Homo sapiens: one gene and its partner. The protein of the gene in region 2 purifies or fractionates together with the protein of the main gene of each other region. This does not show direct contact. Each region holds a gene or a part of one and is shown on either strand. Other genes may lie near its edges. The genes, in order: SLC6A15 and TMEM41B.

Region 1 (10,062 bases), on a different chromosome or scaffold from region 2:
GAAACCCAGATCGTTTCTACCTTTCTTTCACTAGGCTGGTCTGTGTGTGACTGGGAAGAAGACGGTATTGAGTACAGGGAAATCCTTGCACTCTAACGTAGCGCACCAACTGGATACATAAGAATGAATCAAGACGCCCGAGGCGTTCGGGAACAGGCATGACCCACCCAGTGGCACAGGCTGCGGGAACGGGAATTATTTTTCCTGAGCTGAGAAGCAGCCTTTGATGTGCGTTTTAGGAAGCAAAGCCCCCAGGCTCGCGCTCTCCAGCGTCCCGCTTTCCCTTTCCATCCTCCTCCCTAGCTGGGAAAGGCTGGAGTAAGACGGGGCGGGGTCCGGACTCCGGCGCAGTGACGTAAGCAGTGTTTGGGTGCTTATGCAAATAAGTCTGCGACGGTTTCTTCTGGTCTTGCCGTTTTCCCCTCCAGATCTTATAGGTAGACCCAATCTTAGTCTGCACCATCCTTGCGGTTCACTACTTAAGACGTATGGGAGAAATGAAGGATTTGCTTTATATGCTGCTTTGGGGCTCCTCATCGCCCATGCTGTAAAAGCTATTTTCTACCTGTCAATGCCTGATTGCTTTTCTGCTGTGCCAGCAACAAAGTGTTTGTTTTGAGGAATTATTATGTGCAGACACAGCCCCAACAAGCCCCTCACCCACCCAACCTCATTTCTGCAAGATCATTGCTGAAACACAGACCTATTTATGTCTTAGGCGCCCAGTACTGGGCTTGACTTGTACGTTCTTAATAAATACTTAATGATGGACTAAATCTTCTTTGAACAGTGTTAGGTTTTGAAGGGAAGGCGAGGGTTAAAGACACACACACACACACACACACACACGGAAAGAGGGCGGCTCAACAGCAAATTCAGGCTTTCTGTCCAGCATAAATCCTACAGAAGTGGAGGACCAGCCTAATGCCGGAGCCCGCTGCCGCTTACAGGCTGGGGCCATTTATAGGTACGGGCAGAAGGGGTCTGAGCAGTATGGCTTGCTGCTCCGCGGGATATTAATAAGATGCTTCCATGAAGAGGCGGTTCTGGCTCTTGTTCCGGCGCGATGTCGTTCTGTTGTTCAGGGTGTTCCTTGGACCTTTGTCCAGCAAGATATGATAGGGATGTCTCTTTAGTTAGGCCTTTGTCCAACTCGTGGTCAGTTGGTTAGACGGGATGTTTCTCACAGCTCGAACCCCTGTGAAATGTTTCGCTTTCACCAAGGTCTGCAAAATAGCAGGGAGCTTACAACATGGTGCAGTTTGGACTAACAAACAGTATGTATTTTTTTCTCTCATATTAAATTCAAGATATTTGACCATCAAAATCAGGCGATTTTATTTTTATGTGTTGTTGCCTTTTCTATGGAATCATCAATGATCCATGTGTATTTGTTGTGGTAAAACATATCCCAACAAATTTAAAATGGAATTTATTAACCATTTTTCTCTAAATAAAGCTTTCAGTTTGTGTTTTTTTTTAGGATGACAGGAATTAATAGGATTTTTAAAGAAAGATAATCTTTTACTGTTGATAAGCTTTTCTTTTTTCTGATTGCACATTATATAGTTGATTGAAAAATTATTTTATAATTCTAATATAGTTAACTCGAGATGTAGTATTTTAATCGAATTAAGAAAGTTATTTTTATATGTTTCTAGGAGATCAGTACTCTATCACTGAATAAATATGAAATAATGCAGAATCTTAAAACTGGATAACAGTTATGAGAGATGCCAATAATCAGATGAGATGCCTTCCTTGTCACCTACTGAAACATTTAAAATAAGTCAGAATAGTTACTAAACTCTAAAGTCCGTATTCATAGTTACTACCTTACCCAGTGATCATAGTTGAAATTGTAAATATGCTTCTCTTGTCATAAAATATAATTTGTATATGAATAGGTAAGATATTTGCATTCTTTTTAACTCTGGGATTATATCATCTAGGAAATTGAATCATTGACTTAGAATAGCAGACCCAAAAGAGAGCTTGGTGGCTATCAAAAGCTCCTAAAAACTTTTCTTTCACTTCTCAATGGACCTCTCACCTTGTGGAAGAGTATGTTAATTCTTTATTACTACATACATATGCATGATAGGATATATTAGTATATTCTTATGCAGCTGTGCAGAGTAGATTTTGAAATGGTTTCTCAGCAGATAGTATTAATAAAAATCTACAGGCATAGTTGGATGCATGAACAACATTCAAGGTTACATAGCAGGAATCATTAGATTTATTTCTACTTTGCTTATCATACCACTCTTCTGGCTGTCTTTACTAAACAATTTTTGATGTATTTATCTGCTTAAATATTAACTTTGACCAGTAATGATCATCTCTTTTTCTGTGAACAACAAGCCCTAAAAATAAACTGGGATATAGGGCAATTTCAAATGCAGAGTATCACTTGACACAGGGCAGAGCTGTAAGTTGTGTTCAGCCTTGAAGGTCACTTTATTTCCTTGTGATTAATGTGCTAAGGTATCTTTTCACATAAGATGAATTGACTTTTATTTTTAAATAGAATGCATACTTTGGGAACTTTTTCACCTATCAGATTGGCAAAGATCAAAGAGATTATTTGTTATACAGAAGACAGTAGAAGAAAGCGGGCACTCTCATGCATTGCTGGTGGTAGTGCAAATGGACACAATTTTTATCAAGGGCTATTTGGTAATATTTATCAAAATTATAAAAGCTCATACCTTTTGATCAAGCTGTTCCAGTTCTAGGAATTTATTCTACAGATATGGAGATGCAAGATATACAAAATAATTTGTTGGAACATTGTAGTAGCAAATTATCAGTGATGATCTAAATATATGGTATACCATACCAAGGAATATCATACAGTAGTTTTTTAAATGAAGCTATTACATTGAGATCAAGAGTTTTGAAGAATTTATTAGAGTGAAAAACTAAGAGGTAGAATTATGCACATAGTAATAGTTGTGTAAAAAGAAGCAGATTGGGGGCTGGTGGGGAGAAAACACATATTAGCTTGAATATATATAGAGTGTTTAAGTGTGTATACACACATATATATATGCTTGAATATACAGAAAATATTTATTGAAGATTTTGGTTACTTATTGGGAGGTACAGATGGTACAGTATATTCTAGGGAGAAAGGGTAGGAAGATATATATATATATATATATATATATGTTTCTTTACTCTTTGCCCTTTAATATCTTATTACAGTATTTTGTATTCAAAATATAAATATATAAAATATTTTAAAGTAAAGACAGAGGCAAATAAACACCTTTGGTAGAGTTTTATTCATTCATCACATGCCATGGAATTAGTAAGGTACAAAAGTCAATGAGTATTTTGACGACCCCCTGATTTTTGTTGTTGTTTCTGAATTTACAAGAAAGCTTCCTCTTTCAAGAGTTTTAGAAATAAAATTATATTGGAGAAGCATATTTAGTACTTGATTCAATAAAGTTATTTAATTATACTAGCAAAAAAGGCATAATTTTAGGGTATTAAAAAAAGTCTTAATTTTGAGATGGGTGTTGAGTCCCATGTAGTTGGTAAGAAATAACACAGAGAGTTCTTGTGAGCTCTTGACAAATTTCCTGCAAATATAACATTTTGTAATAACTATATTAAACCTTCCTAATCAGAATATTGACATTGATACAGTTAAGTTACAAAAGAGTTCCATTACATAAGGATTAACTGTGTTGGCCTTTTATAACCACAACCACTTCACTCCAGTCCCCAGGCTCTCCTTAACTCCTGGCAATCTCTACTCTGTTCTCCATATTTATTTTTTGGTCATTGCAAGAATATTATATAAATGTAATCATACAGTATTCAATGTATTTGAATTGATGTTTTTTCACTCAGCATAATTTTCTGTAGATTCATCTAAGTCATGTATATTGGTAGTTTTTGCTAAATAGTAGTTAATGGTATGGATGTGCCAGAATTTATAACTATTTACCCATTGAATGACATCTGGATTATTTCTAGTTTAGGGTTAATGTAAATAAAACTGCTATGGACATTCCTGCATAGGCTTTTCTGGAACATAAATTTTCATTTATCTGGGATAAATGAGAACACTTGCTCGGTTATGTGGTAGCAGTGTGTTTAGTTTTTAAATGAACAGTCGAACTTTTCCAGAGTGTTTGTACAATTTTACATTCTCACCAGTAATGAATAAATGATCCATTTTCTCTGCATCCTTGCCAGAATTTGGTTGTCACTATATTTTGGCCATTCTGATAGGAATATAGCAACATCTCATAGTATTTTATATTTGCATTTACCTAATGGCTAATAATATCGAGCCTCAGTTCTTGTGCTTCTTTGTCATTCATATATAATATTCATTGAAATATCTCTACCTGTTTTCTTATTTTATTTATAATGGTCGAGTTTTTTTTTGTTTTTTGTTTTTTTTCGAGACGGAGTCTCCCTCTGTGGCCCAGGCTGGAGTTCAGTGGCGCGATCTCAGCTCACTGCAAGCTCTGCCTCCCTGGTTCACACCATTCTCCTGCCTCAGCCTCCCAAGTAGCTTGGACTACAGGTACCCGCCACCACGCCCGGCTAATTTTTGTATTTTTAGTATAGACAGGGTTTCACCGTGTTAGCCAGGATGGTCTCAATCTCCTGACCTCATGATCCACCCGTCTGGGCCTCCCAAAGTGCTGGGATTACAGGCGTGAGCCACCGCGCCTGGCAACGGTCGAGTTTTAAGAGTTCTTTATATATCCTAAACACCAGTCATTTGTGACCTTCAAATATATTCTCCCATTTTTAAGCTTTTTTTTTTCCATCCTCTTAATAGATTCTTTCTCATAGCAAAAGTTTCAAATTTTGGGGCCTAGTTTATCAATTTTTGTGTTTCTGAATCCTGCTTTTGTCATGTCTAAGAGCTCTTTGGTTAACCCTAGATCTCAAAGATTTAATCTGATGACTTGTTTCTTAAAGTTTTATATTTTCCACTTAAGTTTGTAATTCATTTTGAATTAATTTTTGTATAAGATATGAGATTTAGGTTCAGGGTTATACTTTTGCCTAGGGATGTCCAATTATTTCCCGAACAATTTGTTGAAAGAGCTATTTTTTTCTCCATTGAAATTGCTTTGGTACTTTTATCAAAAATTAGTTAGGCATATTGTGTGCACTTCTTTCTGGGTAGCCTCTTCTGTTACATTCATTTTTGTCTATCCTTTCACCAACCTCACATAGACTTCATTACTGTAGCTATATAATAAGTCACAAAATTCGATAGAATCATTCCTCCCACTTCATTCTTCTGTTTAAAATTGTTGTAGCTCCTCTAATTTTTTGCCTGTTCATATAAATTTTGAAATAATCTTCTTTGTAGAAAAATGTCACTGATATTTTGATAGGAATTCATTTAACCATATATCAATTTAGGGAAATTTGACATCTTTCTTATGTTGAGTTTTCTAATCCATGAACATGGCATGTCTTCCCATACATTTAGATCTTCTTTCATTTACTTTATCAGCACTTTGTAGTTTTCAGCAAAAATGTACCATCCAGGTTTTGTTACATTTTCGTGTAATTATGTCAGTTTAATGATTGTAAATGCTATTGCATTTTTAATTTCTGTGTTCACTTGTTTATTGGTAACATATGGAACTGTAAATGATTTGTGTATGTTTACCGTGTATTCTGTGACTTTTTTGGACTATTACTCTAGAAGGTATTTTTGTAGATTCATTAGAATTTATAATATAGACAATCAAAATATCTGCAAAAAAATTGAATACTGTATTATTACATTCATATAACATTCTTGAAATGACCAAAAAATAAGTATGGAGAACAGATTAGAGGTTGCCAGGAGTTAAGGAGAGCCTGGGGACTGGAGCACAGTGGTTGTAGTTAAAAAAGGCCAACACAGGGAATCCTTATGTGATGGAAATCTTTTGTAACTTGGCTGTTCTTCTTTCTTGATTTATGTGACTTATACATAAATTTGTAACTTGACTTTTCTTGTTTCTTGATTTATGTGACTTATACAGTTAGGCTTCTGTGTCCTTAGGTTGTGCATCCACAGATTCAACCAAATGCAGATGTGAATATAGTACTTGTGGGATGCAGGACCCACAGATGAATGTGGGACTTGAGCATCTGAGAATTTTGGTATTTGTGGGAGGTCCTTCAACAATGTCCCTTGGACACTAAGGGCTGACTGTATTTTCTTTTTCTTGCCTTATGCCACTACTTAGAACTTCCAATACTATGTTGAATAAGAGTGTGAGAGTGGACGTTTTTATCTTGCTTCTTATCCTGAAGGAAAAGCATTTAGTCTTTCACCAGTAAATATAATATCAACTGTAAATTTTTTGTAGATGCTGTTGATCAAGTTGAGAAAGTTTCCTTCTGTTCCTAATTTTTGACATTTTTGATCATAAATGGACATTGAATTTTGTCTTTCCTGCATCAGTAGATATAGTCATGTGATTTTTCCTTTAGCCTGTCATTATTGTATATCACATATTGATTTTTGAATATTGAACCAACCTTGAATACTTAGAATAAACCCTACTTGATCATGGAATATAATTCTTTTTATACATCACTGAATTCTGTTTTCTAACACTGTGTAAAGGAATTTTGTGTCTATATTCATTAGGAATATTGATCTGTAGTTTTTTATTTTTTACTATGATCTTTGCCTGGTTTTGGTACCTGAGTAATACTGCTTTCATAAAATGAAATACAAATTATTCTATCATCTTCTATTGCCTGAAGAGATTGTGTAGAATTGATGTTAATTCTTCTTTAAATGTTTGGTGGAATTTTCCAGTGAGATTTCTTTTGTGACAGTTTTAAAATTATGCATTCAACTTATTTATTAGTTATATAGCTATTAAATGTTCTATTTCTTATTGGCTAAGTTGTGGTAGTTTGTGTTTTTTAAGGAACTGATTGGTTACACCTCAGTTACTAAATTTATGTGTGTAGAGTTTTTGTTAGTATTCTCTCATGGTCATTTTGATGTCTGCAGATTTTGCAATGATAATTCCTGTTTCACTTACGATATCCAAGATGCCTTAAGCATGAAATTGACTTTATGCAGCTTTACATATGATTGACTAAATGTGGCTTTGAAAGTTAATACCTATTTCTATTCTAATACCTATGAAATCACTGTGTGTATTTAAAAACCTAAACCACATATCCTCTACATAGATCTAGCCACATTGTGAACAGGTTATTGGACAATATTTTAAATTTCAGTACAGTTTGTATAATTTTAGTTAAATCCAATACATAAGTAATCTTATCCATAGACAAATGTTTCAGATATCTATTGCTACACAACAAACCATTCTACAACATAGTGTCTTAAAATAATGACTTTTTAAAATCATTCTTCTGTGGGGTGGTTGGGCTCATTTGGGTGGTTCATTTGCTCTAATTGGTGTGTTACCTGGCTGTTCAGCTAGGGCTGGAATATCAATACCTTTGTTCTTATGCCTGGAGCTTCACTTCAGATGATGGTTGCTTGAGACTATTTCTCTCTCTCTCTCTCTCTCTCTCTCCCCCTCCGCCCCTCCCCCCTTTCTCTCCCTTTCTCTCCCTCTTTCCATGTGGGGTTTCTAGCAGGAGAAGCAGACGTTTTACATGGTGCCTAGCTTCCAAAAGAGGGAAAGCAGAAACTGCCAAGCTTCTATAGCCTTGGAACTTGCATAGTTTCACTGCTGCTACCTTCTGGTCAAAGCAAACCAAAGTTAACCCAGATTTAAAAGAAGGGAAAACAGCCTACTACAACAAATAACTATAAAAGATCAAACAACATTGTATAAGGATGTATGAACAAATAAAACATATTCAGTGCCTTTAAATTAATATTTTTAGAAAACATAGTATAAATTAGTTTAAATAATAGTATATGCCTCCTAAAGATGTGTCCAGTTCCTACTTCCTGACATCTATAAATGTTACCTAATTTGGAAGAAAAGTCTTTGCAGATATAGTATTGAGATGAAGATATGATTTCGGAAGATCCAGATGGGCCCTACATGCCATGACAAGCATCCTTATAGGAAAGATGGAGAGGGATGTTAGACTGAAGTAGAAGGAAGTAGGCAATCTGACTACAGAAACAGAGAATGGAGTAATGAGGCCACAAATTGAGGAATGCCAGCAGCCACCAGAAACTGGAGAAGGCAAGGTTCATGTTCTCCCCTAGAGCCTCCCGAGAAAATACCACCCTGGTAACGCCTTGATTTTGGTTGACTGTAACTTAATTTGGATTCTTTGGTCTCCGGAAGTATGAAAGAATACATTTCTGTTGTTTTAAGACATTAAATTTGAAGTAATTTTTTTTATTCTCAATGTTTTTTAGGGCATATTAGTATATTTTATTTTATTTTTTGTTATACTTTAAGTTTTAGGGTACATGTGCACAATGTGCAGGTTTGTTACATATGTATACATGTGCCATGTTGGTGTGCTGCACCCATTAACTCGTCACTTACATGAGGTATACCTTACGTTAATAAAACTTTGTCTTAAAAACTTTTTGTCTACTTCAGAAATCTCTAAAAGAATTTTGAAAGATTGTCTATCTTTGATTCACAGAAGTCAACAAAAATATACTCCAATTTATGGAAATTGCTTTATGATTATAATTAATTTTGAAATAATTACGATTTCACAGAAGGGTGCACATGGAGGTGTATGCACCATTTACTCGACTTCCCCACCACTAACATCTTATGTCAGATACGGTACTATATAAAAACCAGCATATTGATGCTGGTATAATCCATAGTATGTCCACGTTTATAGCTCTGTGAAATTTTATAAAATGTATACCTTCTTCTATCCCTTACCACAATGAAGATAGTAACCTGTGTGCCTTACCATATGATTCTCTCCTGCTACTCTTTTATAAGCACACCCATTTACCCTCTCCATCCCTAACTCTTCAAACCATGAATATGTTGTTTATTTCTATAATTATGTTATTTCACAAATGTTATATAAAAATTGTTATATATGTATTTCTTTGAAATTGGCATTTTTATATTGTTTTCACTGAGTATCATTTCCTTTAGGTACATGCAAGTTGTTGCATGTATCAATAGTTCTTTTTTACTGCTGAGTAGTGGTTCATGGTGCGAATGTAGCACAGTTTAACCATTCACCCATTGAAACGCATACTGGATAGTTTCCATTTTTTTTCTATTATAAGTAAAGCTGCTATGGACATTTGTGTACAAGTTTTGTAAGTTTTTTTTTATTTTTCTGTGATATATCTCTGAAATATAGTTGCTGGTTACTATGAGAAGTCTTTATTAGTGTTAAAAGTAACCAAGTTGTTTTTCAGAGTGGCTGTACCATTTTACATTTCCACCAGCAACATGTGATTGATTTAGTTTCTACATGTCCTCACCAATATTTGGTGTTATTAATTTAAAAAACAAAGTTTAGCCATTCTGATAGGTGTGTTATTTGTAGCCCACCTTTTGGGAAAAAAAATATACATTTAATGAAGTATAAATAGTGACTTGGTATTGTTATTTGTAAAAAAAGTTCCCTTCCTTTTGATTGGCTCTGTAATTTTTTATTTGATAGCTCAGTGCAAAAATTTTATGTAAACCAGGATACAATTTGCAAAATACATTTCAATTTATTGAATTCTATATTGTTAAAAATATTTCATATTATTCATCAAGATTATTATTTCAGTATTTCATGAAATCTCTTGATGAAAATATTTTTCCTCTATAATTATACCATAACTATAAACTAATTGGCATACGGTGACAATTTTTCTTGAGCATTACAGTATGGTCCAAATTTTGATTTTATTTGGATGGTCTTTATTTTTGTCCTATATTAGAAAATAGAAAAATGAATTTCATTTGAATCTATAAATAATTAAACATTTCATATTCAAATTAGTTTGTATTTAAATAAAACTTTTTTTTCAGTGAAATTTTAAGTTGTCAAAGACAGGGAGATAATTTACTAGTGTTCTAGTGCTTTATTATAGAATACTAAGCTTGTGACAAATGCCAAAAATTAGCCAGTGCAGATATA
Region 2 (10,062 bases):
AAAATAAAAATAACAAAAATAAAAAGAATCAGAAGTATCCATATGTTGTTGAGGTATTAACTCACAATATACAGATAAGTGAAAGAACAAAGGGCAAAATAGTACACAAATATGCTGTGTTTTATCTAAGAAGGGGATAATATGAGTACACTCATATACATAAGTATCTTGTTATATTTTTCTTAAAAAACTAATTGGCCGGGTGTAGTGGCTCATTCCTGTAATCCCAGCACTTTGGGAGGCTTCAGCAGGAGGATTGCGTGAGGCCAGTGGTTCGAGACTGGCTTGGGCAATGTAGCTAGACCCAGTTTCTACGAGAAATACAAAAATTAGCTGGATGTCTTGGTACATGCCTGTAGTCCTAGCTACTTGGGAGGCTGAGGTGGGAAGATCACCTGAGCCCAGGGAAGTTGAGGCTACAGCGAAGCATTTAGCCTCTGCACTCCAGCCTAGGTGACAGTGAGACTGTATCTCAAATAAATAAACCAGTAAAAATGTTTACCTGTAGGGAGAGAGATAAAATGGTAGGACTGAAACTTTTCTTAGCGTAGGTTTGACTTGAGAACCAAGTAAATGTTTTACATAATTACAAAATCAAAATGAAAAAAGAGAATAGCAGGAATCTTAAGAATCAAAAGCAACCTCACACTCATTAGGATGGCTATCATGAAAATAACAAGTGTTGGCAAGGATGTGGAGAAATTGGAACTCTTGAGCACTGTTGGTGGGAATGCAAAATGATGCAGCTACTATGGAAAATAGTATGGCAGTTCCTCAAAAATTAAGAATAGTATTATCAGGGCCGGGTGTGGTGGCTCACACCTATAATCCCAGCACTTTGGGAGACCGAGGCAGGCTGATCACCTGAGTTTGGGAGTTCAAGACCAGCCTGACCAACATGAAGAAATCCCGTCTCTTCATGTATTTTTTTGTAGCGATGGGATTTCATCATGTTGCCCAGGCTGGTCTCGAACTGGAACTCTTGGGCTCAAGTGATCCTCCCACCTCAGCCTCCCAAGGTGCTGGGATTACAGGTGTGAGTCACCAGGCCTAGCCAAAAATCTTAAAACTGTTTTTAGTCATCATATTGTTAGTAGTAATAATGTTGTAAAATATTTAAATATGTGGAAACGTTTTAGATTATTAATACTAATGCATAGTATATATTTTATACATTTACTTTATGTTTCATAGTATATAAAGCACAAATAGGCAACTATGTTGGTGTTATCAAGAACCAAGATTTTTCAGTGTAAGAGAAGAGAAATCTAAACAAAGTTAAGCTCAAGTCACATTCCCATTTAAAAGGAAGCATAGTTTTGACTACTAGTATAAGATAAAGGATAGAACATAAACTACCCTAAGTATCCAATAGGCAAAATTCAATAAATGGTAAATTCTACAAATGATCTGGTTTCTTCAGTAAATTGAAAGAAAGAAAAAATAAAGACCCTATGCTTAAGTGATCCTTTGAGCAAATACTTTGTGTGGACTTCTAGATTCTGATCAGACTAGTCTTTAGGACAATAAGGAATTATAGTTAATTTCTTGAAGTCTGACAATGGTATCATATTTATGTTAAAAAGAAAAGGAGGCCAGGCACGGTGGCTAACACCTATAATTCCAGTACTTTGGGAGGCCGAGGCAGGTGGATCACGAGGTCTGGAGTTCAAGACCAACCTGACCAAGATGGTGAAACCCTGTCTCTACTAAAAATACAAAAATTAGCCAGTTATGGTGGCAGGCGTCTGTGATTCCAACTACTTGGGAGGCTGAGGCAGAGAATTGCTTGAACCTGGGATGCGGAGAATGCAGTGAGCTGAGATCACGCCACTGCCCTCCAGCCTGGACGACAGAGCGAGACTCCTACCACAAAAACGAAAGGAAAAAAAAAGGAATTGGCCGGGCGTGGTGGCCACACCTGTAATCCCAGCACTTTGGGAGGCCAAGCGGGGTGGATCACGAGATCGGGAGATGGAGACTATCCTGGCCAACATGGTGAAACCTGTCTGTACTAAAAATAAAAAAAATTAGCTGGGCGCGATGGCACACGCTTGTAATCCAAGCTACTCGGGAGGCTGAGGCAGGAGAATCGCTTGAACCTGGGAGGCAGGGGTTGCAGTGAGCCAAGATCATGCCACTGCACTCCAGCCTGGCGACAGAGCGAGACTCAGTCTCAAAAAAAAATTTATTTTTATTATTATTATAATTTTTTTGAGATGGGAGTCTCACTCTGTTTCCCAGGCTGGAGTGTAGCGACGCGATCTCGGCCCACTGCAACCTCCGCTGCCCGAGTTCAAGCAATTCTCCTGCTTCAGCTTGCCAAGTAGCTGAGATTACAGGCACCTGCCACTGCGCCCGGCTAATTTTTTGTATTCTTTGAACTCCTGACCTCATGATCCACCTGCCTTGGCCTCCCAAAGTGTTGGGATTTACAGGTATGAGCCACCGCGCCCAGCCTTATTTTTATTTTTATTTTTTTTGAGACAGAGTCTCACTCTATTTCCCAGGCCAGAGGTCAGTGGCATGATCTCGGCTCACTACAACGTCTGCCCTCTGGGTTCAAGAGATTCTCGTTTCCCAGCCTCCTGAGTACCTGGCATTACAGGCATGAGCCACTGTGACTGGCCAATTTTTGTATTTTTATTAAAGACAGGGTTTCATCGTGTTGGCCAGGCTGTTCTTCAACTCCTAGTCTCAAGTGATCCACCCTCAGCTGCCTAAAGTATTGGGATTACAGGCGGGAGCCACGGTGCCCAGCCTGAAATATGTTAATATAGGGCATCATAACACTAGTTTCTCTACTTTGTTTTTTTTTCCCCAATTTCAGCTGTAATTTTAGGTTTCCTTTTCAGAGAAGTAGGAATTGCACCAAATTTTGGGAAAGGAAAAAATACAGTTGCGTTAAACAACAAAAACAACAAAACACTTCCTGGGAACTTGTCCTCATTTATTTCTGCTTCTCTCAATTTCCTCAAGGGAAAATTTCCATTTATCTCCTTTCATCCTTTGGAGTCTTGCTTTCTTTTCTTTCTTTTTTTTTTTTATTATTATACTTTAAGTTCTGGGGTACATGTGCACAGCGTGCAGGTTTGTTACATACGTATATGTGTGCCACGTTGGTTTGCTGTACCCATCAACTTGTCATTTACATTGAGTATTTCTACATTTACATATGTGTGAAACTATCCATAATATGATGTTTTGTTTTGTTTTGTTTTTGAGATGGAGTCTTGCTCTGTTGCCAGGCTGGCTTGCAGTGGCGAGATCTCGGCTCACTGCAATCTCCTGCTTCCTGGGTTCAAGCGATTCCCCTGCCTTGGCTTCCCGAGTAGCTGGGACTACAGGTGCCCACCACCACGCCCGGCTAGTTTTTTGTATTTTAGTAGAGACGGTTTCACCATGTTGGCCAGGATGGTCTCGATCTCCTGACTTTGTGATCCGCCTGCCTCAGACTCCCTAAGTGCTGGGATTACAGGCATGAGCCACCCCACCCGGTCCATATAGTACAATCTTAACCCAAAAAGTGTGTGTGTTTGTGTGTGTGTGTGTGTGTGTGTTTTGTTTTTGACAGAGACATGTAGGAGACAGGTGGAAAATTTGAGGCTGATGAACCAAAGAGAATTTCGAGTTTTTAGTACTATATGTGGTTGATACTTGAAGCCATGGAAATTGCCAAATTTATCAAAGAAAAGGGATTGTGTGGCCAACAGAATGTTAGAGAAATTTCAAGAGTTGAGGGCAAAGAGAAAAATCTAGAGAAGAAATTACCTGTAATGTAGAAGAAAAAGTACAGTTCACTGAAGCCATGTTTCATGCAGGATGAAGTCTAATCCTATGCAGGGATCACTGAAAGGTGACTATTGAGAAAAAGTTATTATTGGCTGTGAGGAAGTTTCAATAGCATAGTGGAATAGTAAAGCAGGTCACAGGGAACGAGGAGAGAATCTCCTCTGAGGAAGTGAAGATGAGCGGTAGCTGGATAGGATACCCTGGTTGAGGTTGTTTTTTAAGTTATAGACAACTGAGTAGTTTTGTAGAGGAGGCATCCTGTGAAAGAGAACAGAGTTGAAGGTGAAAAAACCCAGGAGGAAGGAGGAGGAGATTGAAATGAGAACATGAGTAAAATGGGAACTAGAGAAAAAGGAATAGTTAATGAGTGAGGATAGATGGAGAGATGTTGAGGGAATTCACTTTGACTTGTGAGTAAATCATATTAGAGGGGAAAAAGGTTCAGATCCAAACTGGGAACGACAGGAAAGTAAAAAAAAAAAAAAATCTATTTTAAAAACAAGATTTGTGGCCCGGGTGTAGTCGCTCATATCTGTAACCTCAACACTTTGGGAGTCCATTGTGGGAGGATCGTTTGAGCCCAGGAGTTCAAGACTAGCCTGGGCAACTCAGCCAGACCTCATCTCTACAAATAATAAAAATTGGTGTGGTGACACACGTCCGTGATCCCAACTACTTGCAAGGCTGAAGTGGGAGAATTGCTTGAGCTTGGGCATTTGAGGCTGCAGTGAGCCATGAGTGCGCCACTGCGTTCCAGCCTGGGTGACAAAGCAAGACCCCTTCTCAAATAAGATTTGTGACTTTTACTATATTTTGTAATTTCTATTCTTATTTTTCTTATTTTCTTTTATTCTCTTGTAGTTCCTATTCCTTTAAAATGAGTAGTGAATTTAGGTAAACCTTCATAGTTAAATTAGAAATAATTGTATGTACATGATTTCCCTGAAAACATTTGGGAGTAAAATAAAATGTATTAGAGAAGCACTAAAAGATTACGGAAGACCTTTTCTTTTTTCTTTTGTTCCTCCCCCAAAGTGCCCGGTTCCTCTCTATCTAGAACATACGGTTTTTTGTCTTGGAAACCTTTTAGTAGCACACACTTACTAGTATTTATGATACTGTTTAGTAAATGGTCAACTTAGAGGCTAGACCTTTGGATATAATCTCATTGTATGATAATTTTTGTATTTATACTTTTTTCCTGAAATGTTACATTTGTCTTTTAAAATTCTACTTAATTATATTCTAATCCTTAACTTAAAAGTTACCAGCTTGCAAACATTTGCTATTCCAGGCTCTATATTTCTCAGTATACTCTCAGGGTTTCTTTATCCCTTTCCACTAGCCTTATTTCTTGTTTGTTTGGTAAGTATGAAAAAATAAAATTGGGAGACTGAAAAAACAATAGAATGATGAGGATGATGATGATACTTTAACCCTACTAGTCTATGTAAGCATAAACTCATTAATTGAAGAGGAGTTAATGTTAAAGTCCCTCCACAAGGAGGTGTTATAATTTGTTTTTCCCCCAGAACAGACCAATTATAGACTTAGTTGCATTTATAAGCTATGTTTTAGCTTTTCTTTCCTATTGGATTTTGTAACTGCGACAGTCCAAGGAGTGTTGGTGAGCACAATGAGTTAAGTCCCAGAGCCAGAGGTGGTGTTTTCAAGCTTAGGAACTGGGGGGGTCGGGGGTAGGGTCGGGGGGAGGTGGAAATTGGCTCCTGAAATTTTATTCTTAGGCTAAAGCCTAGCATTAATTATTTGGATATAGTCACTAGGTGTAATCACAAGTGCCAGTTTGTTTTAGCTGATCTCATTTGAGGTACATTTTGGTCTGAGAAAGTACTAGATCATCTCTGCACAAGAGATGTCATGCAGAGTACCCTCCCCACCTCTGAAAGAAGTAAATTAATTGAGCTTTTTACTCAGGTGAATAAATCAATGTGAGTAAGACGGAAAAATACAAAACGCTTATGGCTTCTTTTGTTTTCCAGTGTTCTGGACTTGGTGCCTCTTTCTGTTATATGCTTTCCTATTTAGTTGGGAGACCAGTTGTATACAAATACCTAACAGAGAAAGCAGTAAAATGGTCACAGCAGGTAAACATGTATTTTTAAATTATTTGATGTAACTCTTTGTTAATTGGAAGGTCTGTGTTTAGTCCCTACATGAATTAACTACATGTATTAACCCAACATAAATTAATTCCTAAGTTAACTCAAGTAATAAGAATTATCTTCTGACCAAATAAAAATGGGTGGTAGGCAAATATGAATGTTAATAATTTCAAATACAAATGTTTCAGACCTGTGATGGTAATTTTAATTCTTTATCTTAGTAAATTTAATCAGCAGAGAAGTCAGTGTGAATATAAAGGCATCCACATAATTAGATACCTATCTGTTTTATGTTAATGCAGTATTGTGTGCATCTGTTATGGAAACACTTGTATCAGCCAACTCCCAGTGCATTTTTTTCTTTTCTTTTTTTGAGACGGAGTCTTACTCTGTCACCCAGGCTGGAGTGCAGTGGCATGACCTCGGCTCACTGCAACCTCTGCCTCCTCGGTTCAAGCATTTCTCCTGCCTGCCTCAGCCTCCCAAGTAGCTGGGATTATAGGTACATGCCACCACGCCTGGCTAATTTTTTGTATTTTTAGTAGAGACAGGGTTTTACCATGTTGGCCAGGCTGGTCTCGAACTCCAGACCTCAGGTGACCCACCTGCCTCAACCTCCCAAAGTGCTGGGATTATAGGCATGAGTCACCACTGGCCTTTTTTGATGATTTCTTTTCTTTTTTGAGTCAGAGTTTCGCTCTTGTTGCCCAAGCTGAAGTGCAGTGGCGTGATCTTGGCTCATTGCAACCTCTGCCTCCCGGGTTCAAGCGATTCTCCTGCCTCAGCCTCCCAAGTAGCTAGGATTTCAGGCACATGCCACCATGCCCGGCTAATTTTTTGTATTTTTAGTAGAAACGGGTTTCACCATGTTAGCCAGGCTGTTCTCGAACTCCTGACCTCAGGTGATCCGCCTGCCTCAGCCTCCCAAAGTGCTGGGATTACAGGCATGAACCACCTCGCCAGCCTGATCATTTCTATTGGGTATACTCTGAAGTATCAGGAATGAGAATTTGAAATAAGGTGTTTATATTAAGCAACTTATTTTGAAGTTGTCCTCATCTGATGCTAATTCTTTTCTTTCTTATGACAGGTTGAACGTCATAGAGAACATCTCATTAACTACATTATATTTTTGAGAATAACACCATTTCTGCCTAATTGGTTTATTAATATCACATCTCCTGTGATAAACGTGCCATTGAAAGTTTTTTTTATTGGTACTTTTCTAGGTAAGCCCTCTGGTTCTTGCTGTGTATGAGCTCACTGTGTACATATCTAACAGTGTCCAGCTGGGCTAGATTACATGCATGCTCTCTGCAGATTATGCCAGCACCATCTAGAATTCTTGGGCACAAAGCCTGGCTGTATAAATAGATGCTCAGAAGTGTTTGTTGAATTGTGTTGATTTAGGTTATTTTTGTGTCGCCTCTTTAAAGAAGAACACTTTCTACTGTATATCGTTTTAATGATATAGGGTTAAGCAGGACTTCCAGTCCCTCTAAGTGGAGAGGAAAAAAAATCAAATTGCCTTTTTTGAGCAATTTTCTCCTATGTCCCTTCCCCTTCCTCTTCCCTGAGTCTCGATCTGTCGCCCAGGCTGGAGTACAGTGGCATGATCTCGGCTCACTGCAATCTCCGCCTCCCGGGTTCAAGCGATTCTCCTGCCTCAGCCTCCCAAGGAGCTGGTACTGCAGGCACACGCCACCACGTCTGGCTAATTTTTGTATTATTAGTAGAAATGGGGTTTCACCATGTTGGCCAGGCTGGTCTCGAATTCCTGTCCTCATGGTCCACCTACCTCAGCCTCCCAAAGTGCTGGGATTATAGGCGTGAGCCACCGCACCCAGCCCTTTCTTTTTTTTTTTTTTTTTGTAAATGTTGCTTTGGCAAAATAGCTCCTTTGTTTTCTAATCAAGTATTAAAATGTTGAACTTGAATTTTCAGTAGAGAATTGATCCTATTTTTCCTTTTACTGAAACCAGCTTTTATCGCGGATGTTATCAAAAGTATGGAAAAAGCAAGGATCAACAAACTTTCTTGCTTTTAAGGAAATAATACTTGATTTTGAAATTAATCAGTGGACATGAAAATTACTTACATATTTTGTGAATTCTCATGATTCTTTGTAGGAATGTTTTGCTCTTCTTTCCAGTTCGAGTTGAATTGTTTAGAAGTCAAAAATACGAGCAGATTTCTTACATATTGAATACCTATTAAAGCTTAAGTTAATACTTGTGAGAATATGTCTTTTTGAAAAGAATAACCAAAATCAATTATTTATTGCTACTTTAAAAAAAAATTAGCCGGGCGCGGTGGTTCACGCCTATAATCCCAGCACTTTGGTAGGCCAAGGCGGGTGGATCACAAGGTCAAGAGTTCGAGACCAGCCTGGCCAATATGGTAAAACCCTGTCTCTACTAAAAATTCAAAAATTAGCTGAATGTGGTGGCAGGTGCCTGTAGTCTCAGCTACTCAGGAGGCTGAGGCAGGAGAATCACTTGAACCCAGGAGGCAGAGGTTGCAGTGAACCGAGATTGTGCCACTGCACTCCGGCCTGGGCGACAGCAAGACACTGTCTCAAAAAAAAAAAAAAAAGAAAGAAGGAAAGAATGAAAAGAAAAGAAAAAAAAATGGACAAACTTACATCAGCATGGGGAATTTTTAATTTTGTTAAATGTCATATCCATGGAATCTAAAGAGAGAATTTTTGTTTCTATCTCCATTTTATAGGTGAAAGCCAGAGATTTAGTTAATTTCAGCTTTGGCCAAAGTAATTTATTTCCCTTTGTTTTGATTTTTAGTGAAATGTCATCATTCTCTATGTACTTTTGTATACACTGCTCTCTTTACTCACACTTTGAGTATCTTGACCTTGAAATTGCTAGAACAGAGCACGTTTCTTTCTTTTTTTTTCTCTTTTTGAGACAGATTCTCTCTCTGTCGCCCAGGCTGGAGTGCAGTGGCGTGATCTCAGCTCATTGCAACCTCCGCCTCCTGGGTTCAAGTGATTCTTTTGCCTCAGCCTCCCAAGTAGCTGGGATTACAGGTGTGCGCCAACACACCCAGCTAATTTTTGTATTTTTAGTAGAGATGGAGCTTCATCATGTTGGCCAGGCTGGTCTCAAACTCCTGACCTCAGGTGATCTGCCTGCCTTGGCCTCCCAGGGTGCTGGGATTACACGTATGAGCCACTGTGCCGGGCCTGTTTTTTTTTCTTTTAAGGTTTTTGATAGTCTGGGTGTGGTGGCTCACACTTGTAATCCCAGCACTTTGGGAGGCTGAGGCGTGTGAATTGCCTGAGCCTGGGAGTTACAGAGACCAGCCTGGGCAATATGGCAAAACCCCCTCTCTTGACAAAAAATTCAAAAATTTTGCCTGGGTGTGGTGGTACACGCCTGTAGTCCCAGCTGCTCAGAAAGCTGAGGTGGGACAATCACCTGAGCCTCGAGAGACTGAGGCTGCAATGAGTGATGATTGCACCACTGCACTCAAGCCTGTGCGATAGAGTCAAACTCTCGGGGGGAGAAAACAAAAGCATTTTTGATAAATGTAAAACTATTTTCTGGGCCCTTTTCTTGCGTTTTTAAAATTCATTATTCTGGCCAGGTGCAGGGGCTCATGCCTGTAATCCCAGCACTTTGGGAGGCTGAGGTGGGCGGATCATCTGAGGTCGGGAGTTTGAGACCATTCTGACCAACATGGAGAAACCCCATCTCTACTGAAAATACAAAATTAGCCGGGTGTGGTGGCACATGCCTGTAATCCCAGCTACTCGGGAGGCTGAGGCAGGAGAATTGTTTGAACCCGGGAGGCGGAGGTTGCAGTGAGCCAAGATCGCGCCATCGTGTTCCAGCGGGGGCAACAAGAGCGAAACTCCGTCTCAAAAAAAAAAAAAATCATTATCCTTAAGAGGTGATTAGGAAAGATTGAATTCTTTATATGGAAATAAACTTGAGCTTTAAATTCTTAATTTTTTTTCCAAAATGGAAATAGCTGTGTTGTTTTAAGAAACTTTATGCACACAGAACATTTTAATTTTTTAAAAACAATTGCGGTGGTTTTTACTGTATCTTTTTATATTTTATTTCAGGTGTCGCACCTCCTTCTTTTGTAGCCATTAAGGCAGGAACAACACTGTATCAACTTA

Evidence for each region.
Region 1: the proteins of TMEM41B (region 2) and SLC6A15 purify together in Homo sapiens (affinity purification with mass spectrometry; 2 studies listed by BioGRID and IntAct, with this or other methods). This does not show direct contact.

The regions. Positions count from the first base shown.
Region 1 is NC_000012.12:84,901,716-84,911,777, reverse strand, and holds part of SLC6A15 (sodium-dependent neutral amino acid transporter B(0)AT2), read left to right. Parts: intron 1-10,062.
Region 2 is NC_000011.10:9,283,537-9,293,598, reverse strand, and holds part of TMEM41B (transmembrane protein 41B), read left to right. Parts: intron 1-5,056; coding exon of another isoform or gene 5,057-5,063; coding exon 5,064-5,157; intron 5,158-5,792; coding exon 5,793-5,897; intron 5,898-7,005; coding exon 7,006-7,144; intron 7,145-10,005; coding exon 10,006-10,062. UniProt on the Homo sapiens protein: Phospholipid scramblase involved in lipid homeostasis and membrane dynamics processes. Has phospholipid scramblase activity toward cholesterol and phosphatidylserine, as well as phosphatidylethanolamine and phosphatidylcholine.